Linked DNA regions of Homo sapiens: region 2 is linked to region 1. Evidence: fine-mapped expression QTL. Tissue or cell type: whole blood. Region 1 holds a variant in brackets; the other region holds the start of a gene. All regions are shown on one strand. Distances are between the middles of the regions.

Region 1 (8,000 bases):
AGCCTTGGTACTATTGACATTTTAGGCTGGATAATTCTTTGCTGGAAGAGTGGGAGCTTGTCCCGTGCATTGTGGGAAGCTTAGCCACATCCCTAACCTCTACCCATGAGGTGCCAGCAGCATTCTCCCCCAGTTGTGACAATCAGAAATGTCTCCAGACATTGCCAGATGGCTCATGGCAGAGGGCAGGATCCCACTCCCACTGGGAACCACTAACCTAGGGAGAGACCTAAGGAAGAGGAGACTCCATTCCAGGGGGAGGGAGGGAGGAGTGAAGGGTTGGAGAGTTTACTGGGTACCTGTCATGAGTAGACTCAGTGAAAAGTGAGGTAGGAGAGAATGCAAACACCTCCAACCCAGACCTAAAGATTATGTAGCTCTTCAAAAGTCATCGCATGACAGGTAGGAATAGCTAATGGAAGAGCACGTTAGGCCAGTTTCAATGCAGAAAAGGATTCTTAGAGAGCAGAAGTCAGATAAATAGAACAGACTTTGTCACTAGCTCTAGTAGAATTTGACATAAGGTAAGGTTACCCAAAGACCTGCATAGGATAATTTTATTCATATACTATGAAAGTTCTTTTGATATACCTCATGTGTTGGAAAAGGGCTTTGATGAATTAACTTCACTTGTGGATTGAGCCTTCTAGTTCAATCCACAAACATTTAACACGTTGTATGTGCTGGACACTGAGGGATGCCAGAAGAGCAGGTGACAGCCACAGTCCCTGCCCTTGACGTACCTCGGTCTAGTAGGGAAACACATAATCCCACACTATGATTATACTCCTTGGGAAGTGTCTTGTTAGAGGGGTGGCTCATTAGCACTGCAGAAGCACAGAGGGAAACCCTGCCTGAGGGAGGGATGTGTGCATATTTATTATCTTAACGTTTATACTGCATCACCAAATGTTTTATCACATATTTTAGGATAAGCAAATTCGGTAATATTAATTTTCCGGGCAGAGAGACATTAGATGAAACATGCGGGGCAAAGTGTATGGGAAACCAGAAGCACGGCCAAGAGTGGTGACCATAGAGAATTCCTATAGCAGCACACACACAATTTTATTTGACAGTATTTAATTATGCTCACAATTGCATTACCTTCAACGTAGATCCTTTATGCAGAGGATCTACTACAGTGGTATTGCCCCTCCCACACTTGTTAAACATGTGATATGTCTCTGGTTGGTTGTTTGTAGGACATTTAAGTGATTTAACACTTCGCCTCTTCACCTTTTAAATTTAATAATTCTTTTCCTCAAGTTGACCTATCCATATCCTATTCCAGACCTACTTTTCTTAGAGCTGTGTGGTTGTGTGACTCACTTTCGGAACGTCGGCCTACCTAGTGGGGCAAGTTTGGTTTATGATGATATGTCCAAGGAATTTTTGTAGTCTTAGGCTCAACCTAGAATGATTTGTACTGTCATATTCCATTCAAGGTTATCTAGGATACTACCTTCTCCCACTCATTTATACTCAAACACTTTGCAGTAAACTTTCATACTTCCTCATTCTCTCCTAGGCCACAGCCCAATGCAGTCAATCACCGAGTTATATGAGGTCTCGATAATATTTTGTACATTTCTAACTGCATTAGAATTCAGACCCCCATCACCTTGATTCAGAGAACTAAATCTGGTAGTTTTACTTCTAGCAGCACTCCCTTCCAATTTATTCTTAACACTGTCATTAGTAAAGCTGTTACAAACGTAGTATCTTGCCCATCAGCCCACCTTTGCTCCACTGAGTACACAAGTCCCCAGATTACTTTCCTCAAGTTATCCTTCGCATTGCTAGTGTACATCCTTCAGCAGCAGCCAAAGTCCTCTCCTTTTCTAGAGGCCCATGGTCACCCCTGCCCCCAGATCTTTGTTTCTAGCATCCCTTTCTTCTGCTGGGCATTGTGTCTTTTTCCAACCCAAGTACTTAGAGTGCCATGCGTAGTGAGTGCCTGGAGGGTGGTATTGATTAGTTTTACCCCCATTATTGGATTGCTTGACCTGTTTCCCAGCTGAGGGATTTACTGGACAGGTATGCTCATCTTATTTTCTGAGATTGTCTGATATCCACAGGTTAGATTAGTAATACTCAGACAGAATTAGGGAGAAACATTCTAAAAATGTTCAAATTATTTTCATGGATATTCTTGAGATTGGTTGCTAAAAGTCTGTAGTATCTTACTGTTGAATCCATCACTCTGTTGGTGACATTTACATGAATTCTGAGACATATCAACTCAAGTCTTAGGAAATCTGGGAATATGCATTTTTAAATTTTTCCTGTTGAGGTTTTAGGAAACATTTACTATATGACTAACCATTCCTAGTTAGAACCCTTTTCAGTCAGGGCAGAACCACCCTCAGAGGATGTTAGGAAATGTTTGGGTTCTGTATTCGTTTGCTCAGGCAGTTATAACAAGTTACCACAGACTGCGTGGCTTAAAACGCAGAAACTTGGCCAGGCACAGTGGCTCACACCTGTAATCCCAGCACTTTGGGAGGCTGAGGCGGGTGGATCACGAGGTCAGGAGTTTGAGACCAGCCTGACCAACATGATGAAACCCTGTCTCTACTAAAAATACAAAAATTAGCCAGGCGTGGTGGTACACACCTGTAATCCCACCTACTCAGGAGGCTGAGGCAGGAGAATCGCTTGAACCCGGGAGGTGAAGGTTGCAGTGAGCCGAGATCACACCAGAGATGCACTCCAGCCTTGGCTACAGAGTGAGACTCCATCTCAAAAAGCAGAAACTTACTTCTCGTGGTTCTGGAGGCTAGAAGTCCGAGAAAAAAGCATGTTTGGTTTCCCCTGAGGCTTCTGTCCTTGGCTTGTAGATGGTCACCTGCTCACTGCATCCTCACAGCGTTTCTCCTCTGTGCCTGTGCATCCCTAGTGTGTCTCTCTCTGTGTCCTCATTTCCCCTCCTAGAAGGATATCAGTTACATTGGATTAGAGTCCACTCTAATGGCCTCATTTTAACTTACATGCAGTCACTTTCTGAGGCATTAGGAGTTTGGGCTTAGAGGGGTGGGACAGAGGATGGGGTAGGTAACCACTGAAGATGCAGCCCAATTCAGCCCATAACAAAGGCATTATTTTTTGTTGCCCCAAAGTGTGGAGGTCTGCTACTGGCATCATGGGCAGGGGGTCAGGCATCCTAAGTGCTTGCAATATGTCAGAGAGACCTCCACAGGAAAAATTGTTCTACCCCAAATGCCCGGAGCAACCCCTACAAGAAGTACGGCTAACGAATACTTTGTGTCTTGTATTTATCCTCATATTGCTTCCTTATTTTTTTTTTTTTTTGTCACATGTGAGTCAAATTGTTCAGAAAATTAGCCCAACTGATGTATTCTATAAAATAAATGTCTGAAATATTTCTTAAATTGTTTCCTAGATACACCCTCCGTGGACTTGGAAATGATCGATGTGCACGTTTTGGCTGACGCTTTCAAACGCTATCTCCTGGACTTACCAAATCCTGTCATTCCAGCAGCCGTTTACAGTGAAATGATTTCTTTAGCTCCAGGTTTGTTTTTTCTCTTCTGGGAACCTCATTGAACATACATGGAGATGTAGAGGTGCTTGTATATGTCTTGCATATATAGAAATAGTGGTTAGAAAATAGTAGTAATAACCTGTCCCTCCCCCAACAATACCACCTCAAATTTCCTCCTCCACCCAAGCATCCAAGAGAAGACCCAGATTCTCATTTGCTTGGGAAGCCCGTCTGCATGTCAGAATCAGAAATGGCTCATTGTTAACCTATTGGTCTTAACAAAGTTTGTACGTCAATGAAGGACACGGTCTTCCAAGTACTAGTGTCAGATTCAAGGAACTGGGACTAGAATCCAGTGATGGGGGATGTTCTTGTCATCTTTCCTGAGTGGCCATAACAGAATGTGTTGAGGGAAGATGGCTCTCAGTTTTAGGAGATAAGGTTCAGTTAAGTGCTTTGGGGACAGGAAACTGGTTCGTAACCTTCAAAGTTAAAACCTGTGATACTTATCTGATGCTCCTCTGAGTTAGCCAATCACACTTGAAGCTGCTCAATACTGGGTAAGTTGCTGCCAGCACACCCTGAACAGCT[T/C]GTGGTTTCTTTACACACTGAGCTTTTTGCATTTCCATTTGACCTGAGATTTCTACTTTCTCATAATGCGTTTTCTAATGAGAAGGACAAATGTACTGTGTGCTTCTCCCAACAACTTTTTAAATGACTCCTATAGCTTGAAGAAAGAGCAGAACTTTTCTAGGTGTTTATTCACTGATACCTGGAAGTAGTCGCTTACTCATTTCTCTTTTTTTTTTTTTTTAAACTTGTAGAAGTACAAAGCTCCGAAGAATATATTCAGCTATTGAAGAAGCTTATTAGGTCGCCTAGCATACCTCATCAGTATTGGCTTACGCTTCAGTATTTGTTAAAACATTTCTTCAAGCTCTCTCAAACCTCCAGCAAAAATCTGTTGAATGCAAGAGTACTCTCTGAAATTTTCAGCCCTATGCTTTTCAGATTCTCAGCAGCCAGGTAAGTGAAAGGAGACAAACATGTATTTTGGGGTGATGAGGGTAGTCCTAAATGGATTGGTCATGAAAATGTATTCTGAATATACTACTCCAGAGATGCATGTGCAGATGCTATCACACACATTCACTTGAGTGTATATAAATGAAAATGAGTTTGCTTTTAGGGAAAAGGTTTCTAATAAACTCTCTTTCTTACAGCTCTGATAATACTGAAAACCTCATAAAAGTTATAGAAATTTTAATCTCAACTGAATGGAATGAACGACAGCCTGCACCAGGTAATGCTTTTTGAGCATTTAACATTCTCTCATTGTTCATTTTTTAGAGCCTTAAAAAATGATGGCTATAAACCTCCTTTGAAGTAACACAGCTTCTTATGGAATTACAGTTGGTAGTAATATGTTACCTTGTGATTTAAAGAAAAAATAGCTGAGTGGTAGTGTATATGTTAATTATTATCCGAGTTTCAACATTTGTGGATTTTAAATTATCTTGGTTTTAGGTGAGAGTTTGGAGAGTTCCCTGTACCCTTCAACATTTATGCTTCAGGTTGTTGAAGAGATTTATGGAGTTCATTTTAGTTGTTGACATTTTTGTTTTTCTTTCTAATACTTACAAAGTAGGGGATTTATAATTACTATATAATTTAAAGTATTTTAGAATGTGTTTTTTGGAAGTGGGTATGCTGAGAAATGCCTGTCAAAATAAACATTTTCAATAATGCAAGCAGTATGAAACCAGTGTTCCCTGCAGCAAGTTCGAGCAAGCCAGACACTTCTTTGAAAGCAGGCTGCTGTTCAGTTAGCCATTTAACAAAGCAGGAAATGTAGACCATGTTAGCAATGCATTTAATTTAAACTGATGTATTTTTCTTCTACCGTGGAAAGTCTAAACAACCTCATTTTGCTATATACCAGTTAAAAGTTAGCTAATCGACACTGGTCATTTAGAATAGTAATTAGGGTACTATACGTGTGAAGTTTCAGGACCAGTAAAAGGTGTTGCTTGTAGTCTTAATTTATGCCTGGAACTTAAAATGAAACTCCATGAATATATTTATTATAGGTAATATATGCAGATTACCATATTTATCTCTGTATGAGCAGGCATGGGGACTCAGTTTCATCTTCATGCAATGGAGAGTTAAGTTGTGCTTTTTCTTAATTGGGTATTGCACAGCCAGGCTTGGTTACTTGCATCTGGATGGGGCAGCCTAAGAGAGGCCAGGGCCTAGACTCAAAACCCACCTGCAGCAGGTAGGATAGAGGATAGGGTAGGTAAACACTGAAGATGCGGGTATTGGGAAAGGTTTATGTGGACAGGCCCAAAATGTACCAAAGGTGAGAGAGAGGTATCCGGTATAGTAGATAAGGCAAGCATGGGATGTTCCAAATCACAGCAAGCAGAATGTTTTAACAGGGGTGCCCAGAATTCTAGGTAAACTACGTCAAAGAAGACTGTCAACAGGTAGGGACTAGGACTTCAGTCCAGGGGTTGGCCAAAAGGCTTCATCTCGTGTGAGTACACAGGTCACTGTGAATGGATTTGGGAGCTCTGTGCTGGTGTTCAGAGGCTGCCTTTGGACTTAGTGGAAAAGAATTGGGGTAGGGGTGTGGCACATGGCACTTAAGTTGAGGTTTATGTTAGAGACTAGGTAGAGCTGGACCCTGCTCTCAGTGAAGGGCTAGTGGGTAGTCCTGATCTTTTCAGTGGCCACTCCTCTAGAGAGAGGAGACACATGGAAGCCAAAGCCAGACAGGGTTTGACAGATACCCACAAATGAATTTATCACATGGAATTTTGGAGAATTTCTACTACACAAGGTATAGCAGAATCAGTGGTAGAGTTTGATTAGCCTGACTGGTGTAAACTAGTTAAACGCCTTTGTTAGTTTCATCCTAATTCCACCAAAGTAAAAACGGGTATCTGCACTATTTTCATAATGCCACCCGGAAAGCTGTTTGATATGTCAAAGGACCCTACATTTCTCTGCTGAGCAATTGGTGCGCCTGTTTCAAAGGAGGATTAGTTCCATCAGCTCTGCTAAAGGATGACAAAGCCTTGAACATTTGCTAGATCATCCCAGTATTTATGTGGCCTCTTAAAAAAAATTAAATCCAAGTCGGTTTTAAACTCTAGTTTGAGCCGTTTTCCCAGGAAGTTTGTGTGATTTGTATAGGACCTTTGGAATTAAATGGCTGTTTTAGTGTCTCTCATGTGTGCATACATTGTACTGCCCACTCCAGGAACAAAACGTCCCCATCCAGAACATCTTCGTATTCAGGAATGGCTCCAGTGCAAATGACTGCTATGGCAGCCTGGGTTGAAGAAATGATTCTTAGGCCTGGTTTAAAAAATGCAATAATTTCTTAGAGTCCTTCAGCATTGCCACAGCATGTGCTAGTACCAGACAGAACTTTGAAAGCACAGCACCTTACATCTCCAGCGAATGGCCATTTACAGTAACATTGTTGTGAACACAAATGAGTACCTGAATGATGTTTAAGGGAGACAAAAGCAAGACTCTGTTATAGGGCAGATAGACAGCATTTCTAATTATTACCAGATAGAACTTGAAATGACAAAGCTTATGATGTTTGAGGCAAAGTATCAGTTCAAATAAGAGCCATTAGCACATAGTATCTAATTAAATGCTAGGTGGGAGTACACATACTCTAAGTACAAAAAGAACTTTAGAAATGCAGCTGGTGACTTTCTAGGGTAATGGAGTAGACAGAAAAGGCTCATAGAAGAAATAGGGCTTGAAATGTGCCTTGAAGAATAGGTACAATTTGAATAGGCAAAGGAGAAATAGCATTTTGATGCATGGAGTTTAAAGACTTATTCAAAATAAATTACACAGTACAAAATAATGGCTTGGTATTTTACAAAAGCAGTACATATTTTAAGTGATAGTATCACAAAAAACATCATTTTAGAGTTGAAAGCATTGTCCAGCTTTACCAATTTGGACATGAGGAAACCGAGGCCCACAGATAGAGGTTCGCTCTGTGCTACCCGGCCAGTATGGGCCCAAACCGGGTCTGCCCAGGAGCCGCCTCCTACACTCCAGCCCATTCTATCTGCCATGCCCTGCTGCCTGGATTTTTGGAAACTTCGTGAGCAATGAGGCTGCTTTTAGTGTCCAATCAAAAACTCCTCTGAAGTTTCCAGCATGTAATAAACTAAAAATATGTGAAATTAGCCCCCATGGGTCACATATAGTAAACAAAGTCAGGGCAATGTTTATACTTTTCAGGATAAGGCTCCAAATCACTCCATGAGCTGTGCAGTGGAAAAAAAAGTGGGCTTCTGACTCAAATAGATCTGGATTGGAATCTCAACTCTCTCGAGTAACTCAGCTTTTCCAAATTGTTTTCCAGACTGTGGAATTGGGTTAATGCCTCTCTCCTGGGGTTGGTATGAGATTTAATGAACTGATAATTTCTCTGCTATCTATCGCATCA
Region 2 (10,372 bases), 65 kb before region 1:
AAGCGAAAGGGGAAACCCCTTATAAAACCATCAAATCTTGTGAGACTTATTCACTACCACGAGAACAGTATGGGGGAAACCACCCCCGTGATGTAATTATCTCCCACTGCGTCCCTCCCACAACATGTGGGAATTATGGGAGCTATAATTCAAAATGAGATTTGGGTGGGGACACAGCCAAACCATATCATTCAACCCCTGGCCCTTCCCAAATCTTATGTCCTCACATTTCAAAACCAACAGTGCCTTCCCAACAGTCCCCCAAAGTCTCAATTCATTTCAGTATTAACTCAAAAGTCCACAGTCCAAAGACTCACCTGAAAGAAGGCCAGTCCCTTCTGCCTATAAGCCTGTAAAATCAAAAGTAAGTTAGTTACTTCCTAGATTACAATGGAAGTACAGGCATTGGATAAATACACCCATACCAAATGGGAGAAATTGGTCAAAGCAAAGGAGCTAAAGGCCCCACGCAAGTCTGAAATCCACCAGGGCAGTCAAATCTTAAAGCTCCAAAATGATCTCCTTTGACTCCGTGTCTCACATACAGGTCATGCCGATATAAGAGGTGGGCTCCCATGGTCTTGGGTAGCTCCACCCTTGTGGCTTTGCAGGGTACAGTCTCACTCTCGGCTGATTTCATGGGCTGGCATTCAGTGTCTGTGGCTTTTCCAGGTGCACGGTGCAAGCTGTCGGTGGATCTACCATTCTGGGGTCTGGAGGACAGTGGCCCTCTTCTCACAGCTCCACTAGGTGGTGCCCCAGTAGGAACTCTGTGTGAGGACTCCAACCCCACATTTCCCTTCTGTACTGCCTTAGCAGAGGTCCTTCATGAGGGCCCCACCCCTGCAGCAAACTTCTGCCTTGACATCCAGGCCTTTCCATACATCCTCTGAAATCCGGGCAGAGGTTTCCAAACCTCAATTCTTGACTTCTCTGCACCCACAGGCCCAACCATGTGGAAGTTGCCATGGCTTAGGGCTTGCACCCTCTGAAGCCACAGCCCAAGCTGTACCTTGGCCCCATTTAGCCACGGTTGGAGCAGCTGTGGAAAAGGTCTCTGGCAAGCCCTAGAGACATTTTCCCCATTATCTTGGTGATTAACATTTAGTGCCTTGTTACTTATGCAAATTTCTGCAGCCAGCTTGAATGTCTCCTCTGAAAATGGGTTTTTCCTTTCTATCACATCAGGTTGCAAAATTTCTGAACTTTTATGATGTGTTTCCCTTTTAAAACTGAATGCTTTTAACAGCACCCAAGTCACCTCTTGAATGGTTTGCTGCTTAAACATTTCTTCTGCCAGGTACCCTAAATCTTCCCCCTCAAATTTGAAGTTCCACAAATCTCTAGGGTGGGCCAAAATGCCACCAATCTCTTTGCTAAAACATAGCAAGAGTCATCTTTACTCTAGTTCTCAAGTTCCTTATCTATATCTGAGACCACCTCAACCTGGACCTCATTGTTAATATCACTATCAGTATTTTTGTCAAAGCCATTCAACAAGTCTCTAGAAAGTTCCAAACTTTCCCACATTTTCCTGTTTTCCTCTGAGCCCTCCAAGCTGTTCCAACCTCTGCCTGTTACCCAGTTTCAAAGTCACTTCCACATTTTCAGGTATCTTTACAGCAGCACCCCACTGCTGCTGTAATAATTTACTGTATGAGTCTGTTTTCATGCTGCTGATAAAGACATACCTGAGACTGGGTAATTTATAAAGGAAAAGATGTGTAATGGACTTAGAGTTCCATGTGGCTGGGGAGGCCTCACAATCATGGCAGAAGGAGAAAGGCACGTCTTACACGGTGGCAGGCAAAGAGAGAATGAGCGCCAAGTGAAAGGGGAAACCCTTTATAAAACCATCAGATCTTGTGACACTTACTCACTACCATGAGAACAGTATGGGGGAAACTGCCCTCATGATTCACTGATCTCCCACCAGGCTTCTCTCACAACATGAAGGCATTATAGGAGCTACAACTCAAGATGAGATTTGGGTGGGGACACAGCCAAACCATATCAGGTAGTAAGTATTCCAGTCAATAATTTTTTCATGTTTCTCTTAATATGTAATTAACCTGCATAACTCACAATAGGTGCAGATTTTAATCTAAGTAATGCAAAGATTCATTCTACTTTCCCACCCCCAACACATCAGTTAGCAGGCAGGAGAAAGAGAAAATAAAAATATTGCATAGAAGACCATAGTGTTTTGCCCCAGGGTTGCAAGCATTGATATCTCACCCATTACCAATTCCCAGTCATTGAATGCCTACAGTGTTTGGTTCTGTTAGAGAACAGAACATTTAAAACACTTGACTCTTTAGATCATGAGGCTTACATTCCAAGAAGCCAGTACTCTTCTTGGGTGATTTTTTTTTCCCACTTTATTTTATGATGTGCAGCATCATAACATCACACTAACCTAACCCACATTTCAAAAAAATCACACGAATGTGGCCTAACCTATATTTCTAAAAAAGGTTGAATTCATTGCCAGCATTCAATAATTGGAAAATAGTCCATAAAAATCTGTATTTTCAGCTTCTCTAGGAAAATTGGAAAATTTGGGCTCACATTCCTGTGCGGCAACAATTAGCTAAACTCTAGTTCAGCTGCCCGCTTTAAGACCAGCCATTTGTACTCTACTGTACCCAGAGGGCTTTCCTAATAGCGCCTTTCTTAAGTGGCTCCTCCAAAGCAGTGGTTCCTAAAATCTGGCTTCCCACTGGAATAATGTGAGGAGCTTGAAAAGTTACTAATGCCTGCATTTCACCCCAGAGATTTTGATGTAATCCATCTGGGGTGCAGACCAGGTATTGAGATTTTTATAAGCTCCTCAGGTATTTGCAATGTGTAGAGAAAACTGAGAACCCCTGTCTAAGATAGGGCTTCTCAAAGTTTAACTTGCATAGGAATCACCTGATAATCTTGTTAAAATGCAGATTTTGATTAAGTATGCCTGGGATAGGGCCTGGGATTCTGCCTTTCTAACAAGCTCTTACATAGTGCCAAAGCTGCTGGTCTATGGGCCTCACTTGAGAAGTAAAGGTCTAAGCCATTTGTATTTCACATTGGCTTTGAACCCTAAGATACATTCTTAGGTTTCAAGTCTAATGAAAGCTAATTCTAGCACTCACAATATTGATGTAGCTGGAATGATGATGCCAAATGAGAGTATCCTACCATACTTTGGGGAGAATTCTTTCTCAGCCTATAGCTACTCAGCCTTTCTTGACATTGGGGGGTCCTTGACTTCTTATGCCTTGTATGTGACACCCCTGTATCACCCCTTTCGTTGCAAATTGTACATCTTCTGCTATTTCGAGCTCCTTGCTGGTGTCACTACCTGCTGGCCAACAGTTTGGCCATTACTGATTGAACCATGGTGTTTGGGTACTTAATGTGAGTATTTTATTGCAGAGGTTTTCAATCAGTGTTTCCAGAAGCCTTAGAGTAATAGTTCTGAAACCATAGGGCATGCATCAGATCACTTGGAGAGCTTATTAAAATACAGATTGCTAGGCTCCACCCTCAGCATTCCTGATTCAGTGAGGACAATTTGAATTTCCAACAAATTCTCAGGAGATCCAGATGTTTCTAGTCCAAGGATCCAGAGGTTCTAGACAGAAGGAAGGGAGGTGGTGCAATGGGCCTCTTGGTCTTGTTACATGACTTCTTATCTTATAGTTGTATTTGGGGATTCTAGACTAGATTTTATTAAATAAAAAGATTATTTTTAAAAAAGCTTGAATACTGCTGTTTTGTTGCCTTTGCTTTTGTTTCATAGAAATCAATTGAAGGTGAAAATAAATAAAAATGCTAATACTAGTGATATGGGGAGATATCATCAGTTTAAAACAAATGAAATACTGAATTTATTTAGTATATGAAAAGAGAGCCTTATTTTCTTCCCTTGGGACACTCTTTATGATGAAAAAACGTAAAGGAAATACAATGTATGCTGGAAATAAATTACTAAAGACTGTGTCTAAATGAGGAGGTGCATTTGGGAATTTTATTGTTTTTAGGTTTGCGGGTGAACAGAATCCCACTGCAATAGTGCATAAGACTCTTTCCAGCTATCTCCAGAAGAAGGAGATAACTAGCAAGGTTTTCACTGTTAGAGTTTGTTCAGAGCGGAACCTAAAGGAAATACTGGGAAGGTCACAGCAGTTTCATCTCAGCTTATTGGATTGGATCAAAGTAATTCTACTGCAAGGCAAGGTATATCATTCCATTTACAGACAGAGAATGCATGAAGTCCTTCATTTCACACAGTAGGTGTGAAGAAGGTACCTTGGTAAATTTCCTATTTGCTTTCAGATAAAGTGTATTCTTAAACATGATGTGGGTAGCTGCCTGTTTTTGTGTCGCCTCTGCAAGAGACATCTTGGAATAATAGAAACACCAGTGTCTGAATAGCCTAAAGTGGAGCTTACTTTTCTGTTAGGTGAGTCACCTTTAAAAATGATATTTTTTAAGGATAAGCGATGAATTTTAGGACGTTCTTCCCTCTACTTCCAACGTCCACAAGAATAAACCACCAAATTCAACGTTTTACAGAGGCCAAGTGCTTAGGTTTTGTGTGTTTGTTTTTAAGAGTTTTCTTGCAAGGAAACTGGGAGGGAACTATAAAAGGGCTTTAGGCAAACAGGGTGGGCGGGTGCAGGGCTTTAAGCTGCAGAAAGGAGAATCTGGAAAGAGCTTTTAGGAAGCAGATTCTCACATGTTTTAATATGAAAGAGTGGCACACGTGGTGCTGGCATTCCATCTTACCATCAGTGGAAGGTTTGAACCAACATCAAATTTTTCTGGAGCAACTTAGGTAATTATTACTTGAAGAATATGCATTTCAAAACTAACACCTTTAAGAGACAATGTAATTCACCTGCGCTTCCCCGCCCCCCCCGCCCGCGCCAACCCCACCCCCCGCCAACCCCGCCCCCGACTCCGCGAACGCCGAGGGGCCCGTGGTCTGCCTGAGTGACCTCCATTTGCTCTGTCATCTCAGGACTAGAAGCCATCAGCCAGCGTACGCCCTCAGAAAACTCTCTTCCCTTCTCGCGGGTCCGCCTGGCTCCCGGAGGCGGCGGTGCCAGGCTGCCGGAGTTAGCCAGCGGCAGGCTGCGGGCGCCCGTCCCTCCGGTTCACCCTTTCACCCCTCCTTCACCCCCGGAGCGCCAGGCGGGTGCCGCGGGTTTTCCGCCCACTCGGAAGGCAGTGCTGGCGAGACCAGGAATTGCAGGGCCTCTCCGCTTTGGCGAGCTCTGGAATCCGAGTCCTCCCCACCCCAGCCACTCTGCTGGGGCGCTAGGGGCTCGAAAAAGCCTGGGGTTGGCTGAAAGACACTCGGATTAGAGACGCAGCCAGCCTCCAGGGAGGTCTGAACTTGTCTTCGACCTCCCCGAACCCCTCCGCCTCTGCGCTGGGAGACGCCCAGCAGCCGGGCGGGCCCGGGACGTGTAGAGCCAGAGCACTCCGCAGCGGAGGCAGCGCGCGGCACGGCCGCCCGGGGCATCCCCGCGGCTGGGGGGCGGAAGGCGAGGGCGGTGGCAGGAAGGGTCCGCCAGGCCTGAGCTCGCTCCCCCACTGCCAGCCGCCGGCTCGGAGGCCCGAGCCGTGCGGACGGAAAGGGGCGGAGCCGCGGGCTCTGGTTGGTGTGGGCTCGGGGGCGGGGCGCGCGGGGCCGGGCCGGAGGCGGGGCTAGCGCCGGGCGCTGGAGCTGCGGGCGCACGGAGAGGAGTCGCCAGCAGCTGGAGCGGAGTTGGAGGAAGCAGCGGCAGCGGCGAGGGCGGCAGGCTAGCTGTCGGAGACGGCAAGCACGGATCGGGCACGGCCGGCGGGTCGCAGCCGGGCTGGAGGCCGGTCGGAACCGAGCGGGCAGGAGGCCACCGCTGCAGCGCGGGCCCCGCAGAGGAAGGAAGCCGGCGGGCGGGGTAGGTAGGCAGCAGCAGCCCCGGGTGTGTGTGCTCGGGCGGGGGAGGCGGTGCATGTGTGCACGGCTGCCGCGACTCTCTTCCTGTCACTGGCAGCGGCTTCTCCTTCTGCAGAGCCCCGCCGGGGGGAAGCGGGCTGGCCACCGGCCCTCCCCGCCTCCGGCATCTCCTGGCCGCCGGGCAGCACTACCCCCGCGCGCGGCCGGCGTCCTGTGAGATCCCCGCCATCCTGACTCCCGTTTCCCCCGTCCTCCTGCGAGCTGGTCCTGCACGCCGCCGGTCGCATTTGCCCCCGGAGTTGCCGACGAGCTCGGGCTTCCTCCCACCCTCCGTCACCGCACACTTCGGAGGGTCCCCGCTGTCGCCTTGCTGCAGTTTTCCGGGGCCCCTCACCGGAGGAGAGCGCCCTGGCCGCTGCCTTCGTGTTGCGGGAAGGAGCGCTCCCTTCCCCCGTGGCCCTCCAGCTGCAGCCAGGGTCGCTGCCCGGGCCCTTCCCGGGGCGGGCGAGGCGGCGGTGGTCCCCGGAGCTCGTCCCCTAACCCCCGCCTTCCGAAGTTTGCCGCCCTCCTCTTCCGGGGTGGGGGAAGTGCGCCTCGGGGCGGTTGGTCGCTGGGGCCCTAACTCAGCGTTTATTGCCAGCCAAGCTTGGGCAGGTTGTTGGAGGCATATTTAGTGGGGTCTTGGAACCGCCCGGAAATCCAGCTTTTGGAACGTGGGGCGAGGCGGGAGGGACCTGCCCAGCAATATGGAGCCGGCTGGGGAGAGCCAGGGAGCCTGCAACCCGGAGCTAAAATATCGTGGGCAATTCTCTGGAAACCACAGCTCTAACCTAAGCTCAGAAACTGCCCCTCAGATCACAAGACAAAGAGAACAGAAAACCTCTGGCCAGGCACTCCTGTACAGAAATACACTTTGATAACCAGAATTGGAGCCTGAAATGCAAGGATATATGCAGAATGGCTGTTACGTGTTGAATGCAGAATGTGTGTCAACTGGGTTTGGGGGAATTCTTCTGTTTCCCGGGGCGCTATTAATATCGGAAAGGTCTCACTTCCACCGTTAATCCCTTGAGCTGCAGCGCTGTTGGTGTCCGAGTGTGAGTCTGCTCTTTATTTGGGGGCTTCATGATTTTAGGTTTTTTTTCTTTTTTCTCTTCTTTTCCTCTTTGTCAGCCAGTGCGAAGTACCAATGGATAAAGCAGTTCCGGGTTTTGAATGCAACATAAGATTGTCATTTTGGTGTGATGAGGCTCAAGTTTTAGTAATCAGGAGGGATATTCACAGAGCTTATTGGTCAAGGCTTGATGTGGAGTTATATTTTAATGCTTCATTAGTTCTGTTACGTTTTGGCAACCTTAAAGATGGTTAGATATTAGCTAGGAAGGGTTGGAGTGGGCAGACAGGTTCATTTCTTAAGCAGGTTATTAGAATATTAGATTGTCACAGTTTGAATTACTAGGAATTTGGTGACTTCTGCACAGAAGGCCACAAGTATCTTTTAACATTGAAAAAGGAAGAAAAAGCAACTCACTAGCTATACAACTTTTTGACAGATTACACTGTTCTTGAAAAACCGTTTAGAAGAAAGCAGATAAGAGTTTTCTTAGGTGCAAAAGTTGATTAAACTTTAGGAAGCAAGTGTTTTTGACCAGTATAAAGAAAATAAGAGTAATGTGTGGGGGTGTGTGTGTGTGTGTGTGTGTGTGCGCGCGCGTGCCTGCGGCTAAAGTTTGGGAAGAAATGTTGGTTCAGAGTTAAGGTTTAAGTTGGAAAGGCCAGTGGAGGAGGCTCCCTGCCTTGCAGAACTGCTGGGTATTGTCACTGCTTGCCTCTTCAGCTTTTATATGCAGGTAGGTACTAGATAATCATATTACTTTTTCCAGAGAAGTGGATAGATTTTTATGATTGGGAGAAAGTTTAATGTATCTGATACTGGCTTGCAAAGTGTAATGTGCATTTACTTTTAACTTTCATCTTGACTTGGGACCTGTTCTTAGTTGCATAACAGAACTCTGCAGTGTACACACTGCTATTTGATGTTTTATCTGCTTTTTAAAAATAATGATATCAGTGAGTCTCTTCCTATCCATGATGCTGTATAGTCAGTGTAAAAAGCATTTTGTTTCCCATTTATTGAATGTTTTTTCTTTAGCGATTTCTTGAGTTTAAATATACTAAGCGCAGGAAATCCTCACAGAATAAAGTTGGTTCTGGGAAACAGAAGTGGAACAATAAGTTATAGGAATACATATTTTGATTATAGACAGTGATGATGGTGGTATGCGTTTATCTTTTGGTAATGTCAGTTTCACCTAACGTGATTTTTGAAGGACTTTGAATTGTAAATGCAAACCTACTCAAACTAACCCAAATTTTGTACTGTTAAAAGTTTTGGCCATTTCTTTACATTTTTCCATGACTGTCATATAATTTTTAGGTTGATATGTTGATTGAACATATCAACCTAAATTGATATGTTCAATCAACATATTGGTCGTTCAGGGGAGTATTGTAAAAAGGCATCTACTCTGAAAGATTGTTCACATGATCATTAAAATAGGAACAATTCTAGTTCAGCTTTTATTGTGTTTGCATTTTGTGATTTGCAAAATACATGTTTTATTGAATAAAGAGATGGTGAATGAGCAGGCTGAAAAAAAATTGATTTTTATGCTCAAGTAGAATATAGCCAGTTGAGATAATGTTTGTGTTGGGTTTTGGAATTCTCTCACGTCAAGGCATACACAATGCAAAAGATATTGTATGTTTCATATGAGCTCCTCCAGCTCTCCCTCTTGCAGGGCACAGGGTTTGCAAGTGAAGGCAAGAGAATGAAGCATTTTAATGAAGCCCTGGAAGACTAGAAAGTTAGTTATCAATGGAAGGAATTATCAAGTTAGTTTTTACTTTAGAAAGCAGAATATAAATTATATCACAGCTTTTTATCAAAACCTAGGTTTTAATTAATTTTCAAAGTATTCATATCATTTACTGCATTTTCCCATGCCTCCTTTACGTACACCCTAATGCCCTAATGTGATTACTTGCCATGATTCTGCCAATACTTGTATGGAGTTACTTGCTTAAAAGAGTGGCAATTAACGACCATTTCATGTACATTAAGCCACATGAGCTGAAAAAATAGACTATATAGTTACTTATAAACTTGTCTGTATGGCCTTTATTTATCCCCTAGGTGTTAGGTGTTTATTTATTTGAAAGGCTAGAGTGATTGTAGTATAGTGTTATTGGAAAAAATGTCTACTGTAGAAACATCTTTGGAGATTTTATTCTGCTAGCATTGTTTTCCTTAAAGTAAATCAAATACATATCCACAGGCACCTGTAGTCAAAATAGTTGTCAGGTTAATGATCATCCAAGAGAGTATTGAAGTCACAGGAGTCTGGCCACAGTGTGAGGAGGCTCCACCAGTGAGTGTAGTGAGTTAATAAAGCCAAGGCATCTGGACCAGCCATTCCTTGCCTGTTGTCTTCCTCCCCGGATGTCCCAGTGTCCCAGCCTGGGGTTCTGCCCCAGGATCAAGGGCTGTACCATGAGGACACAGCTACTCATCTCTAAATCCTGGGGATGCACACACACATGTACACATCCCTTGGCCTCTCCCAGGCCTCCTTTGTCCTGACCTCTGTAGAGCCGTCCTCTACCTCAGGTAAGGAGAGAACTACATGGGCAAAGTCCACACTCAGCCTTTATCTATTTACTCCAAAAGGGGTTTAAGACAGCGGGAGTTTTATTTTAGCTAGATTCAGGATTCACTTAGAACTGTTTGCAGAGTTAAGAGGCAATGCAGAAGAAAATCCCTCATAAATGTTTGTTCCTCTGTTAAATCTGAATTGTATAAATGGCAGTAGGTGACATTCAATACTAATAGAAATAATAGTAATATAATAGTTGCAATTTACTAGCTATGTAACTTTAGGCAAAATATTTAACTTTTATCTGCTTGTTTTCTCATCTGTAAAATAGAGATAATTGTTGTACTTAGAGTGATTGTAATGGTTAAATGAGTTGATATATGTACAACTCTGAGAACTATGTGCCTGGCACATAGTAAGTACTATGTTGGCATTAATTATCCTAAGCTCCTATTATCAAGTATGGAGCGAAGTGCTTTATGTATGTCATTTTGTTAATCCTCATAATGACTCTGTGGGCTGTAGGTTTGCTTATAGCTGTCTCACAGATGATAAAACTGTGCCACAGAGAGGTTTAAGTAACTTTCCTGAGGTTACATATTTAGGCACAATCTGACTGGGGCAGCTGCCTGAATCTGAAGCTCAGTGTTCATACTAACCTTGCCAAGAAGTTTACAGAATAGCATCTTTTTTTCAAAAGAAGAGAGACTTGAAGTCATCCCCTTCAGTCCTCTCATTCCTGCCCCCTCAGGTCCTCTTCATTGTGATGATGCAGAGAACCGGA

What was found. PIP is the estimated chance that this variant, and not a neighbour inherited with it, causes the effect.
Region 2: PIK3R1 starts here. The variant in region 1 is fine-mapped to the expression of PIK3R1 in whole blood (TOPMed, PIP above 0.99).

The regions. Positions count from the first base shown.
Region 1 is chr5:68,276,196-68,284,195 of GRCh38, forward strand. PIK3R1 (phosphoinositide-3-kinase regulatory subunit 1) reads left to right here. Exons shown (of 16, transcript NM_181523.3): 5 at 3,407-3,538; 6 at 4,333-4,534; 7 at 4,732-4,811. Among named protein-coding and RNA genes, the nearest start is that of PIK3R1, 64 kb to the left of the region's middle. The variant T/C (reference allele first, on the strand shown) is at 4,100.
Region 2 is chr5:68,210,017-68,220,388 of GRCh38, forward strand. PIK3R1 (phosphoinositide-3-kinase regulatory subunit 1) reads left to right here and starts at 5,740. Exons shown (of 16, transcript NM_181523.3): 1 at 5,740-5,933. RefSeq lists silencers at 4,917-5,136, 5,357-6,456.